Linked DNA regions of Homo sapiens: region 2 is linked to region 1. Evidence: fine-mapped expression QTL. A gene starts in region 1. The other region holds a variant in brackets. All regions are shown on one strand. Distances are between the middles of the regions.

What was found. PIP is the estimated chance that this variant, and not a neighbour inherited with it, causes the effect.
Region 2: its variant is fine-mapped to the expression of PAX6 in monocytes after LPS (Fairfax 2014, PIP 0.91).

The regions. Positions count from the first base shown.
Region 1 is chr11:31,807,176-31,816,191 of GRCh38, reverse strand. It overlaps PAX6 (paired box 6), which reads left to right and starts at 4,870. Exons shown (of 14, transcript NM_001368894.2): 1 at 4,870-5,077; 2 at 5,177-5,364. RefSeq lists enhancers at 1-597, 2,659-3,627, 4,975-5,032, 4,735-5,304, a silencer at 1,561-1,815 and a promoter at 4,678-5,087.
Region 2 is chr11:32,269,787-32,281,551 of GRCh38, reverse strand. No RefSeq gene overlaps it. Among named protein-coding and RNA genes, the nearest start is that of SNORA88, 130 kb to the right of the region's middle. The variant G/AAG (reference allele first, on the strand shown) is at 6,049.

The DNA.
Region 1 (9,016 bases):
GAAGGGGGCAGCGCGCGCGAGGCGGAAGGACAGTCACTCTCGCTGCACAAACTTTCCCGCGGGCCGCGCCGCGCGTGCAGGGGCTGGACGCCACCCGGCGCCAGAGCCGGGCCTGAGGAGCGGGGTCTGGCCGGGAACGAGGGCTGCCAGCCTGGGTGGTGTCATTTGTTGCTTCATTTTTCATTCCCTTTCCTCTCGTGAGGAATCAGAGGCATCGGGCCGCGCGGGCTGAGAATTCTTAAATTCTCCCCGGCCGCATTCGGCTGAGCCAACCCGCAGTTCCTGTCAGCCCCTCTGTCCCCCGGGCAGCGGTTTTCCCCGCTAGCCAGGTTTGGAAGTCACCCTCTGTGAGACTGGGTTAGGAAGTGACGAAAAGCGCCGAATTGTTTTCAAATTGAAAATACTTTTTTTTTTTTTTTTGGAGATAGCGCTGACAAATATATGGGATCCCGGCTTTTGATCCCTGGCTGCCGCCTCTGTTCTCCTGTCGCTAATAAAACTCGCATTGAGCCCCTTAGTGCCTTGATTAACAGGCAGATTAACTCTTACTGGGGTTGGGAACAGCTTGTCCTAATCAATGTCATTTTAAAAGCCCGTCAGGATGCGCTTAGCTTCGGTTCCCTGGATGCTTGAGCGAGCCAGCCATGACATTTGCTCCCTCCCCCTCCCCAGCCTCAAATCCCCCAGTAAAGCCCCCAGTTCCCGCCTGCCTGTTCCCAGGTCTACAACGGGACAAATCGCAGGACCGGGTCGTTGGCCTTTAGAATAGGCAGCGGTTTAGAGAGGGGATATCCAGGGAGAAGGGACTGAGGTGGCCTTGACTTGCTTGCTTTTCCTTTGAAGCTGAACTCTTGCCTCTTGGGGGCAGAGGTTACAGGGAAAAGAGAGATGGGGGGATCGTCACAGGGTGATGAAATGGAAAGCAAACTTTTCTAGGAACCCTATTTGCAAAAATCGGAGAGTGCCGCTGATTTCAGTTGTCCTACATGTCAGGAGTTTTAAACCTAACTCCTATCTGGACAACAGCATGGAGGGACTGGGAGGCAAAGCCTTGGGAGTCTGACCCGCTGGGCTGCTAGGAATCCCTTTGCTGGGAGACTCCACTGGACAATGTTATTTTAAAGGTATTTTGGGGGTGGGCAGGGAGAAGACAGAGAGAGAAAGAGAGAGAGAGAGAGAGAGAGAGAGAGAGAGAGAGAGACAGGCTGGCCTCCCAGAGCGAACGGAAGAGGACTGAGGACTGAACCCAGGGAGCCCCTAGCACTGGCCATTTGGCAGGAGGCGAGGAAGGGCGAGGGCACCGCGGCTTCCCCCCAAGCCGAGCAGTGGCCACAGCCTGAAGGTGCCACGGGGCGGCTCTGGGATCTTCTTGGCTTTTCTAGGCTCTGGGCTCGGCGAGGCTGCCGGGTTAGCGGGAACCGGCAGGTTGCTGGAGAAAGGAGAGGGACAAAGGCCTGGAAGTGGGGGAGGCACCAGGGACTGGGCGGCCGGGATGGGAGCCTTTGCCTTTAGGGCTCACTGGACCCGTTTGCCAGCTCCGCGGACAAGGGATCCCACCTTCCCAGGGTCTGCAAAAAGAGAGACGTTTGGGGCACTACAAAGTGACGCAGGTGTCTGCCAAGACTTTCCTTCTCCAAAAAATGCCAGTCTTCACCCTTTCCAGCGCGCCGGCGCTGCGCCTCTGCTTGACCGGGGAAAGAGAGAGTTTGGAGGTGTCAGAACTGTCAGAACTCCGGATGGGAGGCTCTTGGTTCTGAAGCTGGGAGCTGGAGGCACTTCCCCCCAGAAGTGGGCACTTCTTTGCCTCCCCGAAGGCCTGATGGGGTGGGCACAGGGGAATGCCAGGGATCGGTGCGGGTGAGATGCTTGCCTCACCTCATGTTGACGCATCAATACTGGCTAGAAGCTCTGGGCAGGCTCTGGCGAGCCACGGTCCCCCAGCGGGACTCCCTCCACGCAGACAGCCCCGCTACCGGGTGGGACGACCCCGGCGGCCCCCGCGGGAACGCACCCGCCGGCCTGAGAGGTCCTCCCTCTGGCCACAGGGGGCGGAGGGTAGGGGGGAACAGGGGCCTGTGGGGAGGCGGGGAAAGGAGACAGAACCTAAAGCGCAATCCCCGCCGCCCCCCCGCGTCTTGGAGGGCAGCAAGTGGGCCTCGGGCGTGTTGGTAGCCGCAATTAAAATGGCGACCTGCGAGTTGTCTCGGTTTTGTACACACCTCTGGCAACCGCGCCCGCACCTCAGTCTCGGCCCCCACACCCCTAGGCCGCTTCGCCCCCAGAGCCGGTACTTGGCAGAGGGAGTGAGGCTCCCCACGAGGTAGAACAGCACCCCCACCTTCCTTGAGACCAGTCCAGAGAGAACGAGGAAATCTCACTCTCACCCCTCTCTCCTTAAACTTTGAAAACTCGGCCTCATTCTGGGGTTGAACTCCCCTCCCCAAATATTGACACATGGGAAGCAGCCAAGTCCTTTTTGTTTTTTGTTTGTGCGGAGGAGTTTCCAGGAGTCTTTCCCGGAGCCCCCTTCCCCACCCAATGACGTCAGTGGCATTCACTCCTCGCTCCTTGCCTTTTCTGATTTTTTGTTAAAACTTTTCTCCGCAGCGAGATGGGGGTTGGAGGGGTGGGAGAAGGAGCTGATTCAAAGAGCCAGTGCCCTGGGGGGAAATAGCAACAAGATTACGGCTGCTTCTTTCCGAGGCAAAGCTTAAGAAGGTGCTAATCCACTCGGTCGCTAATTGAGAGGTTGTAAAAATGATACTCGCCTCCAGTTCGGACAGAATCACTTCCCCCCCCCCCGCCCCCCCGCAAGTCCCTCGCTCATGCACAGCGGACTTGAGTCTTGAGTCCAAGCTTCTTTAATGCTCGCTTGGAAAGTAAAAGGAGAGAGAAAGAGAAAGCCGACTTTCGCTGGTCTGGGACTCAGGGCCGCGGCCCCACTTGCCGGCATCCTCCGAAAGTCGCGCTCCTGCGAAATGAAACCTCGCCCAGGAGGCCGCGGACCTGGACACCCGGCGCCACCTCCTTCACCTCTGACCCAGGTTTCCTCCCGGCGCTGCGAGCTCCCGGGGAAGGGTTAGAGCCGGCAGCCCTCCCCAGCCCGGGGAGGGGAGAGGGTTATGCGACCCCACCTCTGGCTAGGGCCGGGGAGGCCTTTGCTTCCCGGGAGCCCTGCCCGGGCTCCTTGGTCGCAGGGCTGCTGGGTCCCAGGCAGGAACGAGAGGGTGAGGCCCACATGTGGCCCGGCGGCCCAGGGCGGCTTGCAGCGTCCTCACTGTCCCGGCTGCCAGGGGCTGCGGCGACGCGGCCAGTCAGCAGCGAGTTCAGGTCGCGCAGATTTTATTGATGAGCTCTGACTTTCAGCACTTTCCCTAAGTCAAGAAGAGTCTAGCGTACCCTTCGGCTGCTTCATTTCAGCCTCCCTGCCTCAGCTCTTCAGCCCTATTCCCCCTCGCCCTGTCCTGGGGTGTGTACAGCAGCCCAGGCCTTCCTTCTCCTTCCCGGCTCCGTGGCCCGAAGCCGCCGAGAGAGCTCGGGACAGCGCAGGACCAGGCAGCCGCTCGCTCTCCTGTCACCTTAACTGCAGGCTCCGAGGGGCGCCTTTGGAGTGTACTGAGGTGTGTCCTAATCGTGCGGCATTCAACAAATGGACTTCTGGTGTGTGGTCAGAAGAGAAAAGCCATTTACTTACTTTCCTCCCCGGTTTTCTGGCAACAGCTGAAGGGGAGCTGCCTCCGTGGACTGAGCAGACCCAGGAGAGGGAGTCGTGGTGCGGAGACACACGCACCACACACAGATGACCGGTGGCACACACGACACACGCTGACATACCGACATCGCCAGTGGGACACACACACACACACACACACACACACACACACACACAGAGAGAGAGAGAGAATCCCTCCCAGCATTGGTCATCCGCCCCCCCACCCAGGCTTCCACTCCCCCTCCCCTCTTATCTCCCCTGGCTTCCCCTCCTCTCGGGCGCTGCGAAAAGCAGCCGCACTTAGTCAACAAATGGCACGTGGGAGAAGTTGGTGAGTGTTTGGTGAGGACTCTTCAGGGCTTTTCACAAGAACCCTCTGTACACAAAGTAAGTGGCGTGTTTACTCGGGCCTCTCCAGCCAGAGCTGTGCCTCTGCTCCGCTGCGCACCGCGGCTTCCGAAAGGAGAAAGGAGAGAAGAAAGGGCGGGGAGAGCGGGGTGGAGGATTTGGACAGGCCCTGGAGGCTTGGGCTGGGGAGGCCTCTGGCCTCGTTTAGTTCTCGGCCCGGCAACCTCCTCTCGGCCTAGGCTTCGCCGCGGCCTCCGCAGCTGGAATGGAGCTGCCAGGACCCAGTGACGCTCCCGCCCCTTTCCTCTTCTTCCAAGGGGCCAGGTGGGCTGGGGTGCGGCCGCCGCTGTGCTCTGTGTCTTGGGGCCCCGGCTGGGATGGGGTGGGGGCGGGCGGGGGCGGGGCGGCAGGCCACGCTGTCCTGGAGTTGGCAAGAAAGGACAGCACAGAAACTTGCACCCTCCGAGGACTGGGAGTCCCGAGTCCAGCTTAGGGGGAGTGGGGGCGCGACCCCCAACCCAGAAACCTTCACTTGACCGCTCAAGTTCGCGGCAGCAGGGCGGGCCGCGCCGAATCTCGGCGTGCGCGGAGCGGGGAGATGCAGGCGAGCGCCAGAGCCCGGGCTCGGGGGCCCTGCGCCGGGGAGAGGAGCCGGGACCCACCGGCGGAGCCGAAAACAAGTGTATTCATATTCAAACAAACGGACCAATTGCACCAGGCGGGGAGAGGGAGCATCCAATCGGCTGGCGCGAGGCCCCGGCGCTGCTTTGCATAAAGCAATATTTTGTGTGAGAGCGAGCGGTGCATTTGCATGTTGCGGAGTGATTAGTGGGTTTGAAAAGGGAACCGTGGCTCGGCCTCATTTCCCGCTCTGGTTCAGGCGCAGGAGGAAGTGTTTTGCTGGAGGATGATGACAGAGGTCAGGCTTCGCTAATGGGCCAGTGAGGAGCGGTGGAGGCGAGGCCGGGCGCCGGCACACACACATTAACACACTTGAGCCATCACCAATCAGCATAGGTGTGCTGGCTGCAGCCACTTCCCTCACCCACACTCTTTATCTCTCACTCTCCAGCCGCTGACAGCCCATTTTATTGTCAATCTCTGTCTCCTTCCCAGGAATCTGAGAATTGCTCTCACACACCAACCCAGCAACATCCGTGGAGAAAACTCTCACCAGCAACTCCTTTAAAACACCGTCATTTCAAACCATTGTGGTCTTCAAGCAACAACAGCAGCACAAAAAACCCCAACCAAACAAAACTCTTGACAGAAGCTGTGACAACCAGAAAGGATGCCTCATAAAGGTGAGTCCGCTTCTTTCTTCTCGCTTTATTTTTATTGCAATATTCAGACAGGTCTCCCCCTTCCTCCCCCCTTCCTTCCTCCCCTCTCGCCGGTCCCCTCCCCCACTGCTACGCCGGGAGAGTTGGGCCGGAGAAGTTTCCACGCAGGAGCCCAAACTTTCTACTTCCAGCGAAAGCCCGCGTCGGAGGGCGACTGCCGGCGAGCGGGAGCGGCGCAGGGCTCGGGGCGGGCGGCCAGCTCAGCCCCAGCGCCAGCGCCAGCGCCAGCGCGGGCTGAGCTCGCGGGAAGAAGGGAGACTCCAGGCGCGACAGCAGCCGCGGCTCCTAGCCCCAGCGTCGCCCAATGCTCCCGACCCGCGGGAAAAGACGAAGAGGCTCTGTGGTGCCCAAGGCCCTGGAACGGCCGCAGAGAGCAACCGCTGCCGGCTGCTTTGTCCAGCCCGAGGCCCAGCGAACGCGCAGAGAGCGGGCGCTCCGAGGACTCGCCGAGGGAGCGCCGAGGGAACCTGCTCGCCGCGTCTCCGCCCGCCCGCCGGCCCTCGGGCTTTGTGCCGCACTGGGCTCCGGCGCAGAAGAGTCAGCCGGCACTCGAGCGCCGAGGGGGGCACCGCGCCCGCCACCAGCCCGAGTGGAGTCAGTCGGCAAGGCAGCCGCACGCTGGAGGTAGAGGGAAGAGCGAGCTAGCGCGAGCCGGGAAGGAAGCCACCAGGCCAAGGCGGTGGAACGCGCGCTCCGAGGGAGCTCAGAGCCGAGCGGGAGGACTGTCAGCTTCCACCCAGCCCCCGGGCTCTTGCCCCCAACTCCACTGGAGCGCTGAGCTCGGAACTTGAAAACTCTCTGCTCCCCAGGCTTCCCCCGACTCTCATCTCCCTTGCCTTGCGGAGGCTGGGGCTCTTCCCTGTTCTCCGGCCCCCTGCGCTTGGTGGGTATTTTTCCTTGTTTTCCTCTGATCCAGTCTCACCAGGTGTTGGGATTTCAGCAAGTTTTGAGGTGCAGAGTTGGTTTGCTTTTTTGTTTGTTTTACTCCGAATCCCCTTATGTTTTTCTTGGTAAGGCCTTGAAAATAAATCTGTATGAAAGCATTGGCCTTCCCCCTCGTCTGATCACTTCTTCTCCCGGCTAATTAGTCGGAGTAATTTGAGAGCTTTCGATTCTAAGATCCCAGGAGGAAAAGTGTCTTTTCAAAGTTCATAAAGTTGTTGCCTCTTTCCTTGTGCAGATTTTCTCAGTCTCCCTGCGCCATAATAGCCCTGAATTTTAGCAAGTGTAATTGGGGGAAATGGAGTTGAATTTCAAGTGGAAATGCTTTCTTTTTCGAGTGCTAAAACCTGGCTCTTCATTCATGAGCGATTTCTAGAAAGTTTAAAAACAAAGTGAACGTGGTTTCTTTCTTTCTTCCTTTTTATTTTTCTTATACTCTCCCAAGCTCCCTAAGCCATTCTGGACGTTTAACTCGAACTTGGGAAGGTTTTAGAAGGGGCTGGGAGCAGAAAATGAAATGAAAGGCAAAGAGCTTGAGCCTGGCGAGTTTACTGAAGAGAAATAATAGTTGTTGCGGTTGACATTACATTTTTTATAGCCAGTGACCTTTGCAAAAGCGTGAAGGCAGTTTGATTAGTTGTTATCTTATTTGGCCCTAGAGAGTAAAACTTTGTCATCATAATTGCTAATTACTCTTTTGGCTGGGGGCGGGAGGACCGAGAGCTCTCCCCTTTACCTCAGTTAAAGAGTTTGGGGATGGAATTTGAGAATTAAGTAATTAAAAAAAGAACAGCATTTGAAAACTGAGGCTTGTGTTGGGGACAGAGAGGTGGGGGCAGTGACCACTCTCTTGTGGTCCAAGGCTGGGGCGACTCCAAAATGTCTGGAGACTCCTTCGTTCAGGATGTGGTTCTATGGCCCCAGCGAGGCCGTACAGAGCCTCGGGCTGAGCTGGGGGGCTGAGGCTGCAGTTGGGGGTCTGACCTCTCCGGTGCACAGGACTGCTTCCGGGTGTCGATGTGCCCCACTTCCCGGGTTGCTTCTGCACTTAGTGTTCACGTTTACTTAAGTAATTAGATAGCTTCTTAGCGAGAGGGAAGTGGGAATGGAGCAGAACTGGAATTTGAAATACTACCACCTTCCCAGCTGCTTCGAAAACTAATCAACGAGGCCTCTTTGTGCTCAGCTACTGAATTTAAAAAAAAATGGTATCAAGAAGTTACAAGCCAGGATGGGAGCATTCTGTTGTGATTGTGCACAGCGTGGGTTACAAAGTGGAGTTCTGGAAGTTTTACCCCTCCTAGGGGAATTCCATTCCCCATCTCCCCACCTACTACTCCTTTGCAGCTTCAGGGTCCTGCATTTGTTGGGGTGGGGTATTTTGCATTAGAGTTGGAGATTTTGCCTATCCAGGGCATGGCTATGGGTGCCGGGACTGAGAGACAGGAAGGAAGCATTGGAGAGCCAACCTAGATAAGGGTAACTAGTAACCCTCTGCTGTGGCCAGTATTTACCCAATGCTGAGAAAAAGTCCTCATTTTCGGTTTATTTTTATGGATTTAAGCTGTCTACCAAGTAGTTAAAAAGTAGACCAGGAATGGCCTTGTAGAGTAAAATGTGCTTCTTGAAATTCTTTGCTTGCAGGCAGGCAGATCAATAATCACCATAGGTAAAACAGAAAAAATAATGCATTTAAAAAAAAACAGAGAGAAATGATGCTGTGACTGTTTTGTTATTTTACCTCTTTTTGGGGGGCAGACCTCTTGAATGGGCTCTTTATTGTAACTCTCTCTTCCCAATTGAGCTCCCCACGGTGCCGTTGTATCTTTTTACAGCCCCTAACAACTCACACCAGTAACACAATTACCTCCAGATATTTACAACAAGAAATTACTTTTCTATTTTCTCCACTCACCCAAAAGACTTTTTTTTTTTTTCCTTTGGGAAAGGTAGGGAGGTGTTCGTACGGGAGCAGCCTCGGGGACCCCTGCACTGGGTCAGGGCTTATGAAGCTAGAAGCGTCCCTCTGTTCCCTTTGTGAGTTGGTGGGTTGTTGGTACATTTGGTTGGAAGCTGTGTTGCTGGTTAGGGAGACTCGGTTTTGCTCCTTGGGTTCGAGGAAAGCTGGAGAATAGAAGCCATTGTTTGCCGTCTGTCGGCTTTGTCGACCACGCTCACCCCCTCCTGTTCGTACTTTTTAAAGCAGTGAGGCGAGGTAGACAGGGTGTGTCACAGTACAGTTAAAGGGGTGAAGATCTAAACGCCAAAAGAGAAGTTAATCACAATAAGTGAGGTTTGGGATAAAAAGTTGGGCTTGCCCCTTTCAAAGTCCCAGAAAGCTGGGAGGTAGATGGAGAGGGGGCCATTGGGAAGTTTTTTTGGTGTAGGGAGAGGAGTAGAAGATAAAGGGTAAGCAGAGTGTTGGGTTCTGGGGGTCTTGTGAAGTTCCTTAAGGAAGGAGGGAGTGTGGCCCTGCAGCCCTCCCAAACTGCTCCAGCCTATGCTCTCCGGCACCAGGAAGTTCCAAGGTTCCCTTCCCCTGGTCTCCAAACTTCAGGTATTCCTCTCCCCTCACACCCCTTCAACCTCAGCTCTTGGCCTCTACTCCTTACTCCACTGTTCCTCCTGTTTCCCCCTTCCCCTTTTCCTGGTTCTTTATATTTTTGCAAAG
Region 2 (11,765 bases), 460 kb before region 1:
AGATGGGATTTTTCACCATGCTGGCCAGGCTGGTCTCAAACTCCTGACCTCAAATGATCCACCCACCTTGGCCTCCCAAAGTGCTGGGATTACAGGTGTGAGCCACCACGCCTGCGTTTTCTACTTTTTAAAATCTGTCATCCCTTAGGATATAGTCGTTGTCTATAATGAAGAAACGCCTTTGCCATTCTGAATTCCAGTTCGTTGGAAAGAGAAAGAGAGGAAGTCTGGGCAAATAATTTCCTCTTGACTCAGAAGTTGCACATACTTCCACTTATATTCCTTTAGTGAGAACTTAGTTAAATAGACATACCTCACTGTAAAGAAGACTTAGATGTGTAGTTTTAGCTTGGCAGCCTTGTTTCCAGGAAGAAGAGGAGAATAGATTTTGGTGGGTGAGTAGAAGTCTGTGCCACATTGTCTAGGATACTAGGTTCTAGAGTCAGACAGACATAAATTCCAATCTTGGCTCTGCCACTAGAGTCAAGAACAAATGATTTACCTTCTCAGTTTTCTATTGGAAAAATGGAAATAATTTCTATTATGGGATTGCTATAAGAAGTAAATTAAATGTGCAAGTACATGCAAAGTGCTTAAGAAAAAAGCATTGATGGTAAAGCACAGAGCACAGGGAATCTGACTGATTGAGTTAAAATTCTGGCTCTGCCTTTGCTAGCTATGTGCCTTTAGATAAGTTACACAGAATTCTCTGAGATCTACTTTCCTGTCTTATACAATGGAGATATTACTAGTGACTACCTCCTGGAGTTATAGAAAGGATTCAACAACATCCTCTGTGCTGGACTTATTAAAATTATTTATCCATGCATGATAAACCACCTTGATCTTCTCACGCTTATTATTATATTTGTTTATTTGTCAATTCCTGAGTTTATCTGCAAAAAAGAAGTAGTAAAATTGAAGTGTGTCAAGTTGCACCTGTCATGAGTTGCTGCATTCTTTCATACCCCTTGTTACTGTTTCCTCCTACATCCTGATAACATGTTTGTTTGTTCATGTATCTTTAGTTTGTGTTCTAGTTCCACTTTCATTTCTTGGGTAACCATCTACTGATGACTTTATATCCTAAGTCACATAGATGAAGCTATTTAGTGTGAATTCCACAGCTTGTCTCAGGTATTGAGCACATTTTTTTTTTCATAATGGCCTCAATCTCATGCAACCATTTCAGATGGCTTAAGCCAGCAAAAATCTCTCTTTGGATAGCTAAGGAATGCAGTAAACACGGGAGATACAAGGAATGATACACAACTTTCTATCCTCAGGGTTTCTGTCGTAGATCATTGCAATGACTCTGGATTACATTTTTCAGGTCAGATTTGGGGATTTATTTGCAGAACTTTACTTATCTGGTTTTATACAGATAACCTGAAACCCCTTGATTGTTCCTCTTCACCTCAAGGACCCTTCCACAAGCCCCACATGACTGCAGGTACACATTACCCATCTTGTCACCCACTACTTACAGAGCTGACATGCTGCTGCTTGGCCCCATTGTGCTATCCCTGAGTACTGTGGCATTCATCCTGGCTCCAATGGTGTAAAATGAGGGGGTATGAATGCCTTTTTCAAACTCAAGACTAGCAAAAGACAAAACCCCCTTTTGTTTGAAGCCACTGGAAATATAGTCTTAGTTCTTGCTCTTTTAGAGAAACTATGGGGTGGGCCCTTTTCTCCTCTATACCCCCACCCGCTGGCAGCAGTAGTTTTTGCATGGAGTAATTGAGCAAATCCAACGTATAAAAGGTAGGATTATCAAAGTGAATGAACGAATGCTTACCTAGCAGAACTGTAAGACATGGAAAAATAGGAAGACAAGCTAATGATCTAGAAATTGTATAGCTTTGCTGTCTTAGAATCATGGCAAATGGAACATATGGCATTGGGTCATTTTTTGCATTGATTTGAAAAGAAAATGAGTTTATTTTACAAATAAATGGAGTTTGTGTTTCTGTTTGCTATTCATGACTGTAATGTTTACTTCTCTTGAAACAGAAATCTGTCACCTAAATATTAAATATAGAGAAAGATTTTTTCAGCTATTAATGAAGAATTTTTCTTTACATGCCGTGCCTTCATCCACTTCAATAACCTTTTTATGCTTTTCCCTTTGTTTGCTATTATTTTGTCTGATGAGTTTGTCTGTGAACAGAGACATCTTAAGAGAAAAAAAGGAATTGGTGAAAAGACAGACATGTTAAAATTGTTATTTGCCTGAGCATTAGAATTTTAGATTAAGGCCTAGAATCAAATTCAGTTTATTTTCTCATAGATTTTATGATACATGTTGTTTTCATTTCCTATTTTGAGATTTAGGATAGGCCCAGAATTGTAATAAAGTTGCCATTTAAAAACCTTCCATTCATTGTTATCCTAGTAGACATGTATTATTTTTCTCTTCCAAACATCCTGTATTTCAGATAACAGAAGCCCTCTTTTCATGTAGAAATGATCCTTGCCCTATTCTCAGTTTGTGTGATCCAAGCCTAGTCATACAAAGTCTATAGTAATTGAGTTAATTATGGGTTTGTGTCTGAAGCTAGGTTAGTCTAAGTCGATTAAGAAACTTTTGAGAAAAATGGAGTTCTCTGCCCATTGACATTGCTGGGCTAGAGAAGAAAGTATGAAACTGACAGAGGTGAGCTTGGCTTCCACATGGTGAGAGTCTGCCTGAGACTGAAGCCAGCTCAGGAAAAATTGACCCAAGAGATACAGAAAGATTTCTGACCATATTGTTTGAGCATCCATGCTGGAAGTAAGATTTATTCCTGCCATCGTGTTTCTTATTTTTCCCCATCAAACTCTCTAGTTGAGTTTCTTTCTCTTGCAATTGAAAGAGTTCTGGTCAATACAAGCATCATCATTTTTCTCAGAGAGCATTTATTCGATTCCTGGGTTATTGTGTATTAACCACTTAAAAATAGTTTCACATGTAACGGGAAAATACAGTATTAATACAATGTTAGGACTGGAAGGGCGGTGGGGCGCAGTAGCTCAAGTCTGTAATCCAGGCACTTTGGGAGGCCAAGGTGGGTGGATCACCTGAGGTCAGGAGTTTGAGACCAGCCTGACCAATGTGATGAAACCTCATCTCTACTAAAAATACAAAAATTAGCCAGGCATGGTGGCACATGCCTGTAATTCTAGCTACTCCAGAGGCTGAGGCAGGAGAATTGCTTGAACCCAGGAGGCAGAGGTTGCAGTGAGCTGAGATCGCTCCACTGCACTCCAGCCTGGGCAGCAGAATGAGACTCCATCTCACACACACACACACACACACAAACTGGAAATGTTACCTAGTCCAGTCTCCCTTTTAATGCAGAATTCCCCTTAATCTCCTTCACTTATAGGCAGCCTAGAATCAAAATCACTTTAATTTTCCAAGGATTTCAAGATACAACAATGCTTTTATTTTTTATTCTTAGTTTCAGAATAGGCCCTGAATATCATTATGGTCTTTTCTTAAAAAAATTCACCACCATGTCAAGTAACTCACTCCCTTACAAACTAGTGCATTCCAATTCTGGAAAGTTCTGATTCTCAAGAAGGTTTTCTCTTTTATTGAGTTAAAATCTATTTTATTTTACTTCAGTCATAGGTCCTAATTCTGCTTGGAACCATGCAAAATAAAGTGATGGCACATCAGATAAGTGAAATGCCAGTCACATTTCTACTGTGTCTTCTTTGCTCTCAGCTACAGAACCCAAGTTCCTTCTCCCATCCTTCACAGAATGGGGATATCTACACCAGCTTGCTTGCCCTCACCTCAATTTCTTTCTTTTTGTTAAATGTGCCTTTTAACCTGGGACCAGAACTGAGCTAACACTTCCTTTGTTTTGCTCTAGACACTTACGTGAGTACAGCCTTATACTGAATTACATTTTAGGGCTTCTGTTTTATAATGAGTTTGCTGTGAACTAGTACCCTCTTTACATCCTCTCATCTCCCTTCCAACCAAACAACTCTTAAGCCAGGTCTGTGTTTGAGTTTTGACTATTTGAATCTGTATTAGGACTTTGCAAACAACCATAAGCTTTGTTCCTCTAAATATCCAACACTGTGGGAAGGGCTTTTTTTTTCCCATGTGTTTCTGCTTTATTGGTACTTTTACTGCCTAGAAGGATGTAAGACAGTGGTGAAAGAGTCAATCTGCTACTTGGGCCACTAAAATAGGCCACTGAACAGATAAGTGTATTCATTTTATCTATTAGGAACTGTATCCACATGTGGGTAAGAAAGACCTAAAAGAGTGGCCTAATCGAGACCATCCTGGCCAACATGGTGAAACCCCATCTCTACTAAAAATACAAAAATTAGCTGGGCGTGGTGGCACATGCCTGTAGTCCCAGCTACTCGGGAGGCTGAGGCAGGAGAATCGCTTGAACCTGGGAGGCAGAGGTTGCAGTGAGCCGAGATCTGCAGTGAGTTGAGATCGCACCACTGCACCACTCCAGCCACTGGCGACAGAGCAAGACTCTGTCTCAAAAAAAAAAAAAAAAAAAAAAAAAAAAGAGTGGCTTAAATACACATTATAGAAGAAGTGTGGAAAGAGGCAGCCAGAGCTGGTATGACGTTTCCATACATCCATGAAGGACTAAGCCTCCTTCTGTATTTGTCTTCTACTATCCCATTACTTGGCTTCCATGGCTTCATGGTCTAAGAGGGCTCTTTCTAATATTTTGTCCACATTCCAGACAGTAGTAGGGAAAAAGGTTGCTTCTCCAAACTGTCAGCTCCTTTTAAGGTGCTGTCTTCAAGTCCCCACAGTCTTTTCATTTATATCTCATGGGGCAGTATTTAATCATGGACACAGCTAGCTACAAGGAAGGCTGGGAAATATGGCCTTTTGTTCTGGGCAGCTGCACAACCAGCCAAAATTTGGGGTTCTACAACTACAAAAGAAGTGAAAATGGATCTTTAGAGACCACCAGCCACATTCATGGAAAACAATATTGAAGGATTTTCCTTCTTGCCTTGGAAATAAAGAGTGATAAAAGATCTACTTAATTTGGACAAATCTCCCCACTTTTAGACGAACTTTAGGTTTGGTTATGCCCTGTTTTCCTCTCCAGGAATTTCCTTCTAGCCCTATGCGAAAGGTTAAAATATAGCTGTGTTTTCAGTCCTTCCTTCTCCTTTCATTGCTGCCTAGTTAGCATTAATACAGGGACAAAGATGAAAATTGTTAGAGCTGAGTGCAAGTTTGAATTAAATCTAACCCCTTCTTTCATGCACCAAGTATGAGGTCTAGTCTTTCCTTCCTTAATAACAACTGGCAATAGTTAAACCTTATATAATGTTTAATACAGGCAGTCCTTGTTTTGCATAGTTCTGATATGCACAAATTTCACTTACTACAGTTTAATTAAATAACACCAGTCCCTCAACAATATGATTCAAATTTTAGTTACCACATATATTAGCTGTGAGCAATTGCATGAAGTACAGACTTTGCTGCTAGCTCTTTAGTTCCACCAAGTCACTATATAAGTAACAGATGTGCATCATGATTGGTGACTAATCCGTCACTTCTTTCGAAGTCTTTCAGTGATTGGTCACTGTGCATCTGTTATTTAGTTCACAAACAGACAACAAAGTGTGGAGTTTATTATCTTGTTTCTTAGTGGTAAACCTGAGCAACATTGTACAAATGTGGAAAATTGAAAGAGGGAATTGGCCAAAAGAAAAAAAGAAGATGCAAAAAAGAAACGAAAAAATAGGGCCGGGCGTGGTGGCTCATGCCTGTAATACCAGCACTTTCGGAGGCTGAGGTGGGTGGATCACGAGATCAGGAGATCAAGACCATCTTGATCTCTTGATCAATGTGGTGAAAACCCGTCTCTACTAAAATACAAAAAAATTAGCCAGGCGTGGTGGCATGTGCCTGTAATCCCAGCTACTTGGGAGGCTGAGGCAGGGGAATTGCTTGAACCTGGGAGGCGGAGGTTGTGGTGAGCTGAGATTGCGCCACTGCACTCCAGCCTGGCGACAGAGCAAGACTCCGTCTCAAAAAAAAAAAAAAAAAAA[G/AAG]AAAAAAGAAAAAATGATAACACTGGAAATGAAGTTTGAATCAAACATAAATGTAGTTACAGAAGAAACAGCTGATCATGGGAATGTTGACACTACTGCCTTTTGAAAGACACGCAATCAGAAGAATCTGTTCAAGGCAAAGTTACTGACATAAATGAGGAAGGTGGTTGTAATGAAGGGATCAACATATCCCAGAGGAAATGATTCTGGAAAAAATCTTCACATTAAAGGAACCCTTGGAGATATTTTGTGGCATTGAAAGCGTAAGGGATAAAATGTTGGAAGCTGACCCAAACTTTGAAAGGAGTATGACAATTTGCCAAGGCATAGGAAAGATGCTCACTCCATATTGTAAATTATATGATGATAAAAAAGCAAGCATTGTTCAAATGAATATTGTTAAGCTCTTTACAAATAAATCAAGCATTTTATTCTCAATGTTACTAACACTTTAGATCAACATAGAAAACAAACATTCATTTTACTATTTCTTCCATTTTTCTTCATATTTATAACCAATAGGGAGAGAGTTTTTTAATGTTTTGACAATATTTTTAAAGGTCAAGGAAATATGATAATTTTTCCTGTTCATTATTAAAAAGTTTGGCACAGTTTCAACTTGCATGGCCATTTTTATGATCCTGCACTACAGTGCAAAGTGAGGATGGCCTGAAGTTCATGGAGTTACACTGTTTAATATTCACAACAATTCTGCAACTCAGGGCAGATATTGTCACTCCCCTTTTTATTTTGAATGAAAATCACAGAGATTAATTAAGTTCAAAATTGCACAGCTAAGTAACCTGCAGGTCTGGAACCAAGGCAGTTTCACTTTAAATTTTGTGCTTCTTATACCCTCACTACCACAACACCCACATTCTTTCCGATTAATCCCATTGAGATGTGAGGTATAAACAGGGAAAATGTCCCAGATGTTAAGGCCTCAACAATCTAATGTGTTTTGTGTCACATTACACTGATTGTGGATCAGTTAGTGTCCTTATGTCACAAGCAACAAACACCAAGCCCAACATGGTAGATTGCTTACAGTAAGAGACCCCAGTGATTCATTTTTTCTTGTATCCACTTTTCTTGGAAAGGTTTCTTGGTCACTTCTCTAATTAAGATGGAATCTATTCTCCTATCCCTTGAATCTAGGCTGATTTAAAAATTATATTTGACGAATAGAATGTAGGAAAAGGGAAGTTGCAGTTTTTCCTTTCATCCTCTCAGAACATTTCTCCATCATGCAATGAAGCCTTGTTTAATTTACTTGAGAATGAGAGGACACAGGGAGAACTAAGGTGCTCCAGCCGGCACTTCATTTGGTTTCTACAAAGTGAGCGAGTGAGGCCATTTGGGATCAGTCAGCCCCCAGCTGATCTGCCCACTGATTGCAGATGCTTAAGTGAATCCAGCTGACACCACATGGAGCGGAGCTACACCATCCCATCTGAGCCCTATCCTAATTGCCAATTCATAGAATGGTGAGTATATAAATGATTATTATCTTAAGCTGTTAAGTTTTGGAATGGATTGTTATGTGGCAAACCACTAAAGTAAAAAAGGGAATTTACTGGACGAATATGGGGTTGTTTGCAGGATTGAAGGGAAAGCTGAAGAACAGAAAACTTTGTAGAAGAAATTACTGCTTCTAGAGAGAATGAATGCTAGCTGTTTGTTTTGCTCCTGTGTTGTTCTGCTAGAGAAGTCCTGGGGGAGAAAAGTTGGTAGGTCACATGTCCATCCTATGGATGTATTGATTTATGAAGGGAAAGCCTGGAAGAAGAAACTTTCTGGTTCTTCTTAAACTTTGTAGTTTGGGGAGGCAAACACTTAGATTTATCCCCCCAAATTGAATGCAGATACTTCTAAAAGAAATCAGGTGTTGTAAAAGAGGAGGAGTGGATGCTGGACATCTTCAGAATGACAACTGTCCATTAGAGTAACTTCTCTGATGAAGGTTTAAAAACATTTTTTTTTTTTTTTTTCTGAGACAGGGTCTCACTCCATCACCCAGGCTGGAGTGCAGTGGCATGATCTCGGCTCACTGCAACCTCTGCTTCCCAGGTTCAAGCGATTCTCCTGACTCAGCCTCTTAAATGGCTGGGATTACAGGTGTGCGCCACCACGCCTGGCTAATTTTTGTATTTTTAGTAGAGACCGGGTTTCACCATGTTAACCAGGATGGTCTCAAATTCCTGACCTCGTGATCTGCCCGCCTCGGCCTCCCAAAGTGCTGGGATTACAGGCGTGAGCCACCGCGCCTGGCCCTTGAAAACATTTAAAAGTCTACACAGTTTGTTATTTCATGGCAAATAAGTTGTGGGAAATTGAAGGAATTTTATACCCACATAGTAGGCTTATAATTCAACATATGGAGAGAAATTGCATCTTAGACTCATAGAAGATTAAATGTATAAAGGACATTAGAACTCAGTGAGGCCAAGCCCCTCAGTTTATAGATGAAGAAACTGAGTCAAAGGTGATTAGGTGAAGGGTAAATTAAGGTCATGACAAAACCAGGACTAGAACCTGGATTTAAAAAAATAGCCTTAGTGGGATTTGGGAAGGAAAAGAAAATGCATGTGGTATGTTTGAAATTTGCATTACCTTTCTTTTTGGGTATTCTTAGAGTCAAGACTCTTTTGAAAGCCTCCCCTGACTATGTGTGGTGCTCTCCTATCCTCCCTCCTGACCCTCCCACTACCCATCATTTCTTTCCCATTCCCAAACTCATTCAAGGGTGTGTTTCAGACAAATATTGCTCTGGGACAATCTAACCCTGAAAAATCAGAAAAGGTTGACTGACATCCAACAGCCAAGCCAACTGGCGCTTGAGTCAGGGTAACATTGTCCTGTCAAGATTGAAACATTCTTAAAACTTCATCTTGGTAGCAGCTACACTGTATTTTCCATTTTTTTGAACCTCCTAGATTTTTGAAGGATATTTGCATAAAAATAGCATTTTCGGCTAGGCGCAGTTGGTCATGCCTGTAATCCCAGCACTTTGGGAGGCCAAGGTGGGTGGATCACAAGGTCAGCTGTTTGAGACCAGCCTGACCAACATAGTGAAACCCCATCTCTACTAAAAATACAAAAAAATTAGTTGGGCGTGGTGACAGGCACCTGTAATCCCAACTACTCAGGAAGCTGAGGCAGGAGAATCACTTGAACCTGGGAGGTGGAAGTTGCAGTGAGTCAAGATCGTGCCACTACACTCCAGCTGGGGTGACAATGCGAGACTCTGTCTCAAAAAAAAAAAAAAAAAAAAAAGCATCTTCACACTCTTGGCAGTTCCTGAGGAGTACTGTTCCTTTAAACTCTTAATCCTGTTAGTGAGGCATGTCGATTAGACTGTATCATGGGAGATTATGGCATCTGAGAAGAAATAGCCAGTTGGAGAAGCTGAAACTCTGTATGAACATAGACCTATCTAGGAAAAAACACTCTGATTGCTATTAATGAAAACCATTATAAGAAATAAAAACAAGAGGGTAATGGGAAAGAACATATAGATGGAAAAATATTGCAAAATTGAGTTTAAAGAGTATTTGGATCTAAGATCTGGAAGAATAATAAGAAATCAGTAACAGTGGTTGCCTCTGGGAAGGAGAACGGGTGGCTGGAGATCTGGATAGGAGAGGTACTTTTCAGTTGTGAACATGTCTCGAAATGTATTGCCTGCTCAGAAGGAAATCAACGAAGTAAGTATGAAGTGCTGCAAATAGTTACTTTACCAAAAGCAAGTATTTGGATTTGAGAACTTCCATTGTGTTTGTTAACATTTCAAACACGTTTTATAAATGGCTTTGGGGAAGGAGTTTTAAAAGCATCTCATTTAGCTTTGTTCTCTTGACTAATTATTAAGTAATATGGTGTCTCAGTTTGTTTTGTGCTGCTATAACAGAATACCACAGACTGGGTAATTGATAAAGAACAGAAGTTTATTTCTCACAGTTCTGAAGGTGAGGGGTCTAAGGTCCGGGGGCCAGCATCTGAAGAGGACCTTCTTGCTGCATTATTCCAATGTGGAAGGCGGAAGGACAAGAGAGTGTGGGAGTAGGGAGGGGGAAGGAAGGGGGCCAAACCACTCCTTTCACTCCTTTCCTTGCTAACAAATTAATACACTCATGAGGGCAAAGCCCTCATGACCCAATCACCTCTTAAATTCCCACCTCTCAACACTGTTGCATTGGGAATTGTTTCTGACACATGAACTTTGGGGGGCACATTCAAATCATAGCATATGGGGTTTTCTTTGCCTAAACATTTGGTTGTTGCTACCCTTAAGGGTTTTCTTTTTTCCCTCAATACATCATTTCAGTATTTTCTACTTTGGCATTAATCGATTTTTTAGTCCTGTTGAAGACTGACAAATAAATAAAATCCCATTTTCCATCTTTGTAGTCTTCTTGCACACTATTGGATAATTTAAAAATACTTCCCAACCCCCTTTTTTTAATTGTATCTCCCTTCTCCTCTTAAAATGTGGTCTTTCTATGTAATGGACCAATTGTTCTCCTGCTAAGGTAGATTATTTTGCCATTTGTTGGCTGTTTCAGTGTGTAATGAGTTAGTTAAATCAAGGTTTGTGACTCTAAAGGTTCCACACTGGCAAATATGGAGATAGCGGTTCTCAGTGGGTTCAGCTTAATGGAGATTTTTCCATTTTGAAAGACATGATCTTTGATGTTTTTACCATGGTTTTGCCTCCTCTAGAAATAATACCAGGGTTGCCTTTATTTCTGATAGGAGAGGGTCTATAGAAAGAAAGGATGTTGGCTTCAAGGTACAGGTTTTGGCAGATTCAGTGCCATCTCATTGGTTACAAAGCCTTCCTGGAAAGCATGCAATTATCCAGCTTGCACAGCACAATTAAGTAAACAATTCATTTAGTCTCTCTATCCATTGCAGAGGGACTGGGGTGGCTTGGGAGATTGGAAATGGGAGCTGTAGCCTTTTCTTTTGACGTAGGTGATTTGGATCTGTTAGCGTAGTGACCACAGAGTGTTTCCATCTGATGGCTGTGTGGCGACCCATGTAAAACAGACTGGTGGTTTCAGGCCCTTGGAGAGGCAGTCACATCTCAACATCCAGGATCCCAGCTGGCAGAAATATGTGAGGATTATACCGACGTGATTCTATTCAGTTTGTGCCTTAGTGAAATTCGTATCTTGAAAATCCTGCTTGAATCAAAGTGAGATTTAGTGTACCTTCGTAAAGCTCTGAGCGAAGGTCTCAGCCTTCTACGTTTGTTGTATGATTAGCACACTTGGCCTGTTTACTTTGGCTTAGAGGCTTTAGGAATCTTTAGGTTTTTAAGATTTCTCCCAGTTCTCTCCAACATTTGTGAATGCCAGGGATAATATATTTACTCACAGTTAGTACAAACTGCTTGAAGAAACATGATATTTGGATATAGGATTCTGTTTTCAACTTGTAGTAAATCATGGCACATCTTGGTAGTTTTAGGCTGAATGAGGCTTCTTGTAAACTAAAAAGATATGCTTACAAACTGGAAAGTGCCATTAGGACCTAAGATATTCCTTAAACTGGCCTGGAAGGCCATGTTACTTGATCCACTGGTTTTCCCTAGCATTTTTGTTTTCCAACCCTAGTATTTAACAGTCCTCTACACTCCCACCCCCTCCCTTCACACACAGACACACACACGCACTTACTAATTCTATTGCTTTTTCTAGTTGGAAGAGGCA